Linked DNA regions of Homo sapiens. The protein of the gene in region 1 purifies or fractionates together with the protein of each later gene. This does not show direct contact. Each region holds a gene or a part of one and is shown on either strand. Other genes may lie near its edges.

Region 1 (3,754 bases):
TTCTCCGAGACTTGTTCCTGGAACCTCGGTCTAGACTCAAGCTCCTCAACAACTCTGTAAGTTATCGCATATCCCTTAAAAAAAAAATGACTTTCTGCTTAACTAGAGTGGATCGCGTCATTCATCTGCAACAAACAGCCCAGAGAAATATATATTCACTTGTTAACTGAGTTCAGTTTTAGTAGCTATAGTATAAAAAAATTTTATTCTTCTAATAATTATTTTCAATACCTTTTTTACTTCTATTTCTTCCTTCAGCTCTGTGATTCTACTTGTATTCCGTGCAAATTTGTTTATCTTTTGTTGATCTTCGAAAGTAACATTGACATCTTCTGCAGCCTGAAAGAAGTGTTTAAGTTTTTGTAAAATTTTAACGGAGAAGTTATCAGTTAGCTTTTTATATTTCTCAACAATAACTCAATAAGCCATTTGCACTCATATAGTCAAGAATCACAAGAAGTACAGAACATAACAAATGCCTTATTTTTTGCTCCACAAGCTTAAGGTTTGTTTGTAAATCTATAACCTTTTCTGATACTCCATAAAATAATTCCTAAGCTATAAACATATTGCAAACATAAAGAACAATTAATAAGTCCTTTTAAAAGGAAAGAAAAAAAGCCAACTTTTGGCACAGAGCAGAATTTCTCAAGTTGGAGCATTCTTTCATTAAGATGACCCAGGAAACAAAAAGTTACATGGTCAAATATATTGGTAAATGTCTCAGAGTAGTGTTTTTTTTTTCTTAGAGCTAAAACTTGCATGAGCTTACTGGCTAAAGGGTCACTGTACATTTCAGTGGCTCTATTCCATTCACAGCAAAAATTATGTTTATAATGTAGGACCTGTTTAAATGTCTTAATAAGGTCTACTTTACTAAAAAATGATGAAAATTGAATGTTTAGTATTTAAAAATTAATATTTAATGTGATTAAATTTACAAATTTGCAAATAAAGAGTACTTGGATAACATAAAGTACCAATGAAATAATAAAAAAATAGCTAACACTGATTGAATTTACTATGTGCCAAAACTTCCTAAGTACTTTATTATCTCTGCTAATCCTGCAATCCATCTTATTAGGGAGGATCACCAGCACTATTTTACAGATTGAGAAACTGAGGTACACTTTATATAATATGGCCAAAGCCACAGAGCCAGTAGGTGGTGGAACTTGATTTCAACCCAGGCAGACTGGCTTCAGAGGTCAGACAGGTCCATGAGTTCTCGGTAACTGAATGTGAACGTGCGTCTCTGTGAGTGTGCACGTGTGTGTGTGAGTGTGTACACAGGCTTAGGCACATCTGGAAGAGGCAGCAGGATGTCTGCTTTCATCAGATTCTCAAGGAGGTACCATATATTTTTAAAAAATAAAGCTAAAACATAAAACCAGACTCTCCTTAGGGTTTCCCTTCCATTTATAAAATGAAAACCAGAGCACCTGATTCTAGTTTAAAGAAGAAAAGATATTTGTGTGTGTATAAAAATAGTTCATACTGAAACACTACTTTTGGCTCTTTTGCAGTAACAGTAATGAGCTCACAACATTCACACTCCATCCCTGACCTGGTCTCTCATGACCATCGACTTAAGGTATGTGAACTTTTATTTCTCAGAGGTTGAAAGGCAGTGTCAAGCAATACAGAGCTCAGTGGTCGGAATATAACACAGTCCTCCCCTTTGTTAGGCTCTCATTCCAAGAAACAATTTCACATGCATTATGCCCCACCTCAACAACCCAGAAGATAGCCTGAAAAAATCCTTTACATCACACTATGTCTAGCTTTGAGTGTTCAACCGTATGCATAATTTTGATGAATATGGAAGTTGGGGAACACTGAGCTACGCTCAAGAAACCAAAGTCTATATCTTGGCACACAAGTCATTTTGCCTAAGTGAGAACTGTCAATTCCCTACGCAAATAGACAGCAGAGAATTCTGAAGAGTTCCTGTTTGCCTGAAGAGTATATGCCATTTTGTTTAAATATTGAACCCCCAACAGGCATTTATAGATGTATTTGTCTTGGTGAGGGCTCAACAGAGCCATTCACATGAACGGATCCAGTGCAGGACTGCCTGGCACATAACTAAGGCTAATACATGGTTTCTGAATTTGAATCTAAATCATGCTTGATCAGACTCAAACACATAGTTTCCAAAATGTGGTAGAGAGAATTTGGCTATCTGCTTTCTGTCTTTCCAAAGCAGGAATTTCCTGTTGTAGCCCCACCAAACCACAGGCATCAGCACACATGTGGCCCCTGGTATCCAGATCTTTACAGTGGTTTTCCCACTGGGGTTAAGGGCTAAAGTTGATGTGTGAGTCAAATATACTGCATGCCGCCCAGTGGAGTGCCATTTACAGCAGACAGTAAGATGTCAGTGCCTTTGATGGCTAACAGAGGCTTCTGTTTTAGTCTCACTGTCCTAGAACATTCCTACATTTCTTGAAGCTGCATTTTGGCAAGAAGTGGGTAATTTTTTTTTTTTTTTGGTGAGACAGAGTCTCACTCTGTCGCCCAGGCTGAAGTGCAGTAGCATGATCTTGGCTCACTGCAACCTCCACTTCCCGGGTTCAAGCCATTCTCCTGCCTCAGCCTCCCAAGTAGCTGAGATTACATGCACATGCCACCATGTCCGGCTAATTTTCGTATTTTTAGTAGAGAAGGGGTTTCACCATGTTGGCCAGGCTGGTCTTGAACTCCTAACCTCAGGTGATCCACCAGCCTCGGCCTCCCAAAGTGCTGGGATTACAGGCTTGAGCCACCACGCCCAGCCAGAAGTGGGTAATTCTTAACTGGGGGGTGGGGGTGGTCAATGGACATTGACAGGTCGATATACCCAGAGACTGTATGCAAAATGGCATGTATAGTATGTGCATCCTTCTGGAAGGTCTTCATAGCTTTCACCAGATTCTCAAAGGGATCCACAACCCCAAAAGGTTAGGAACTCCTGCCTTCAGGGAAACCAGCTGTAGCTACTCTCAAAGTCAGAAGAACTCTAGGAAGAACTCATATCCTATAGTATCTGAGGCAGCACACAGAGTGGTGGGAAGAGTCAGGCTGCAATCCAATCCAAGCAAACAGGAACCTTGGGCAAATTACCCAATTCTTTGGAACCACCTCAGGTTTCTCATCTGTAAAATGGAGAGGCTAGTTCCTACCTTATAGGGTTGATAAAATGAACATGTAGGAGAAAGCCTGATGATGGAGTCAGTCAAATGATAGCTAAGCATTTTACATCCTGAATATTGTTTATCAAAAATCATTACAAAGAACAGATCCAGATCTAGAAAGAAATTCTGCTAGGCCAAAGAGAAATATGCCTGCTCGGGATCCAAAGTAAAAATTAAAATTCCCTGGGCTCTTTTCTTGAGAACTAATATCTTACGGGATTAGAGGAGGAAACTGAACCATACTCAGTCATGCCTCACACCAAGTCTAGGTATTACACGGAGTCTGCACTGACAGCTGGGTCCCTAGAAATAAATTCTGGCCAATTTCAGTCTTTTATTTTTACTTTTAAAAACATATCTACCAAGTCTGTATGATGTAAACTTTTGCTTTGTATTTGTATTCAACCTTCTTTGTTTGTTTTTTTGTTTTTGAGACGAGTCTTGCTCTATCGCCAGGCTGGAGTGCAGTGGTGTGATCTTGGCTCACTGCGACCTCTGCCTCCCAGGTTCAAGCGATTCTCGTGCCTCAGCCTCCCGAGTAGCTGGGATTATAGGCAAACGCCATCATGCCCAGCTAA
Region 2 (3,754 bases), on another chromosome or scaffold:
ATGCCACTGCACTCCAGCCTGGGCAGCAGAGCTAGACTCTGTCTCAAAACAAAAGAAACTTTGGTTTAAAGTAAGTATCTTTTTCTTTTTGAGACGGAGTTTTCGCTATATCGCCCAGGCTGGAGTGCAATGGCCCGATCTTGGCTCACTGCAATCTCCGTCTCCTGGGTTCAAGCGATTCCCCTGCTTCAGCCTCCTGAGTGACTGGGATTACGGGCGCTTGCCACCACGCCCTGCTAATTTTTGTGTTTTTAGTAGAGACGGGGTTTTACCATATTTGCCAGGATGGTCTGGAACTCCTGACCTCCTGATCCGCCCACCTCAGCCTCCCAAAGTGCTGGATTACAGATATGAGTCACCACACCCGGCAGGTTAAAGTATCTTAGAAATAACTTTAAAGATTATCTAATTAAATGCTTTCTTTTTTTAAAATGAGGAGCTGAACTTCAGGTAGATTAATTAAAGTGTTTAAGTTTAGACTTTAAAGTACATTTTTTTTTTTTTTTTGAGACAGAGTCTCGCTCTGTTGCCAGGCTAGAGTGCAGTGGTGTGATTCTGGCTCACTGCAACCTCCGCCTCTTGGGTTCAAACAATTCTGCCTCAGCCTCCTGAGTAGCTGGGACTACAGGCGCATGCTACCATGCCCGGCTAATTTTTGTATTTTTAGTAGAAATGGGGTTTTACCGTGTTGGCCAGGATGGTCTCAATCTCTCCTCTTGATCCGCCCGCCTTGGCCTCCCACAGTGCTGGGATTACAGGCGTGAGCCACCGCCCCTGGCCTCAAAGTACATTTCTTAAGTGCTTACTTTCCTGTTCTGTCTATGATTAGGTACTTAAGTGTAAGTTCAGTAATAAAAATGATTTGTCATGGAAAATGTTTATAGCAATATTATATTGTATGTGAAGAAGATTTATTTAAGTAGGTGCAGTTTTAACCTCCTCTTCCCTGCTTAATTTATTAGGAGTGATACAAATCATAAATCTTTCAGATGTCTGATCAGTGTTGTAAAATAAAAATAAAAATTCAATTGTCATTTAAATACACTCATTCTGGCCAGGCATAGTGGCTCATGCCTGTAATCTCAGCACTGCAGGAGGCCAAGGTGGGTGGATCCCCTGAGGTTAGGGGTTTGAGACCAGCCTGGCCAACATGGTGAAACCCCATCTCTACTAAAAATACAAAAATTAGCGAGGCATGGTGGCGCACACCTGTAATCCCAGTTACGAGACTGAGGCAGGAGAACTGCTCGAACCCAGGAGGTGGAGGTTGCAGTGAGCCGAGATTGCGCCATTACACTCCAGCCTGGGCAACAAGAGTGAAACTCTGCCTCAAAAAAAAAAAAAGTAAAAAATACACTCATTCTAAGTGTCATGCATTGTTCTAATAGGAGGACAACTCACATGTGAGAAATCTAGTAAATTATTTTACTTTTGTTTGTTCTAATTAATACATTATTAACTTCGTACATTTCACTTTTTTTTCTTTTAAAAGCATATTGCCCTTGTGAGAGAGAATAGGTCTGCTTCATATTCTGTAAGCAGAAAAAAAGGAATGGAAAAGCCCTTAAGTACAGGTCACATTCCATTACAGTGAGCTAAAAGGAGAAGACTGATTTTTTTTTTTTTTAAGTTGGGGGGAGGTACAGGAGGAGGGTTTTTCTGGAATTTGGTCTTTGAGTATTACTTAGTAAGTAGACCATTACTTCAGATTTGGAGATCTTTTAGTTAGAATGGAATTTGACCTCAGTCTCGGGATGACTTGTTTTGTGATTGATTTGAAGAAAGAATAACATGTGTAAAATTTAATAATGACTTTGGAATGACATCATGAGAAGTAGACCTGCTCATCACTGACTAATCCATATCTTTATGGTTCAGAATTAGATTATGTTAAATTGTTCATCTGATTTGCTTTCTCAGAATGAATAATGTAGCACAAGTAAATTTTATGTCCAAGCTCATATATTTCATTTTAGTTTAAGAGGATAAGGATCCCAATTTGAGAGTTTGTTACTGGGACACAAAAGAATTGGAACAAAGTAGAACCCTTGAATATGTGTCTGTGTAGTATGAAATGCATTGTTGGCATTCACTACAGGATAATTTTATCCTTAATGTGAATATCCTTAGGTCTTAAAACAGTAATGCCAGCTTTATTAACATGTTGTACTTGGATTTCACATCACTGCGCTAGCCTTTGTTTGCAATAGCTAAAGAATTCCTTTTTCAAAATAGAAAAAACGTTTTACTCCCTTTGGGCTTTTGAGCTACAGTGAAGTTTTAATTTTTAATTAGAATAGTTTCATTTATTAAACGTTCTGCAGAAGTGTTAGGAGAGTTGTTTTTTGTACATATTTTCCAAAGTGCTACAGATAAGTTGTTTTCCATACCAAGAATTTTGGAGTTTAAAGGCTAGGATATGAATTAATAAATAGTAGAATGGTATTATTTCCAGAAGGTTTATTTCATATAAATTACGTTTCTTAAAAGAAGTGTGGAGTTTTAAATGTTTGGATAAAGTTGAGCTTCTACATGATTTCAGACTTCTGTTTTAAATTTGACTTTAGTGCTGTCTGCATCTCACCGGGAGTATGAGTTTGACCCTGTATTGTAGGGGCATGTAAGGTGAATAGCGTTTGTTGTTTGGCTAGCGTATTAGTGCCCTGAGAGGAAGAAAAGACTTGCTGAGTATTAGTCTGGTCATGAGGATGTTCTCTTTCTTGATGCTAAACCTGAGATATCTATTTCTGAATTTATAGTCGAGTAATTTTGGGTATCATTGTGATTCACTTCTTTAATTCTAGTCTTTACCTTACTTTGTTTTTTCTTTTCCATTTTGAGTGTTATTTGGGAATTCTGACTAGAATATTACTTTTTCCCAAATTTTCATTTTAAAACCGTAATAAAATGGTTATAATAAAATCCAAAACTTCATTTTTCTTTTAGAACATGCAGTAGATTTTCCCATTGCTGAAATTCAGGTCTCATTGCTTCTTGCCTGGACTTTTATGATAGCATCTTAACTGTTCTTTCTTCCTGCCTTCATTCTGTCTGTCCAAATCCATTCTTCACATATCTTTCAGAATTAATCACATCAATATTCTTCCTAAAGTCCTTTGTTCATCCTCTGTTGTCCACAGGATAAAATCTAAACTTGTTGGCCTTGCATTCATGGTTATTCATAATCTGTTCTTAATTTACCCTTTGCCTCAAGTCCCACCACTTTCTTTTTCCAGGGTTAGGATAGCATGTATATTTCATCTCATGGACCTACCTCCTTCTACTAGTTTGTGTTATATGTTGAGAAGAATTTTGAGATGTCAAATGGGTTTTAAACATGCTTTAATTGATTAGTGATGTCTGTTACACAGTGAGGGTAGAAGAGTAGTAGCACATGTACTAGAAATTGTTATCCTACCCTTGCCACATAGGTTTCCTCACACATGTTATGTTTTTGTGCTTTTTTGCTTTTGCTCAGTCTTTGGCGAATAACATTGTCCTTGGCTGGCAATATTCCTCTTTTCCTTGTGAAATTCTTATCCTTCAAGACATAGCTCTACTCTTACTTTGCCTCTGAAGATTTTTTCAGCCCCTGGGGCAGACTCATTCACTCTTTCCTTGGCGATAGTAGGGCTTTTGTTCCTACAGCTAGTAAAGCACATTGAGTGTGTAGGTGTGTTTAAATGGGTCGGTCTTCCCAGCCAGATTGTCAGCTCTGGGAGACCATGTATATATATTATCTTTGTTTCCTCAT

Evidence for each region. Proteins that work in one complex are often made in the same cells at the same time.
Region 2: the proteins of PFDN4 (region 1) and PFDN1 purify together in Homo sapiens (affinity purification with mass spectrometry; 6 studies listed by BioGRID and IntAct, with this or other methods). This does not show direct contact.

The regions. Positions count from the first base shown.
Region 1 is NC_000020.11:54,210,936-54,214,689, reverse strand, and holds part of PFDN4 (prefoldin subunit 4), read right to left. Parts: intron 340-3,754; coding exon 232-339; intron 1-231. UniProt on the Homo sapiens protein: Binds specifically to cytosolic chaperonin (c-CPN) and transfers target proteins to it. Binds to nascent polypeptide chain and promotes folding in an environment in which there are many competing pathways for nonnative proteins.
Region 2 is NC_000005.10:140,296,349-140,300,102, reverse strand, and holds part of PFDN1 (prefoldin subunit 1), read left to right. Parts: intron 1-3,754. UniProt on the Homo sapiens protein: Binds specifically to cytosolic chaperonin (c-CPN) and transfers target proteins to it. Binds to nascent polypeptide chain and promotes folding in an environment in which there are many competing pathways for nonnative proteins.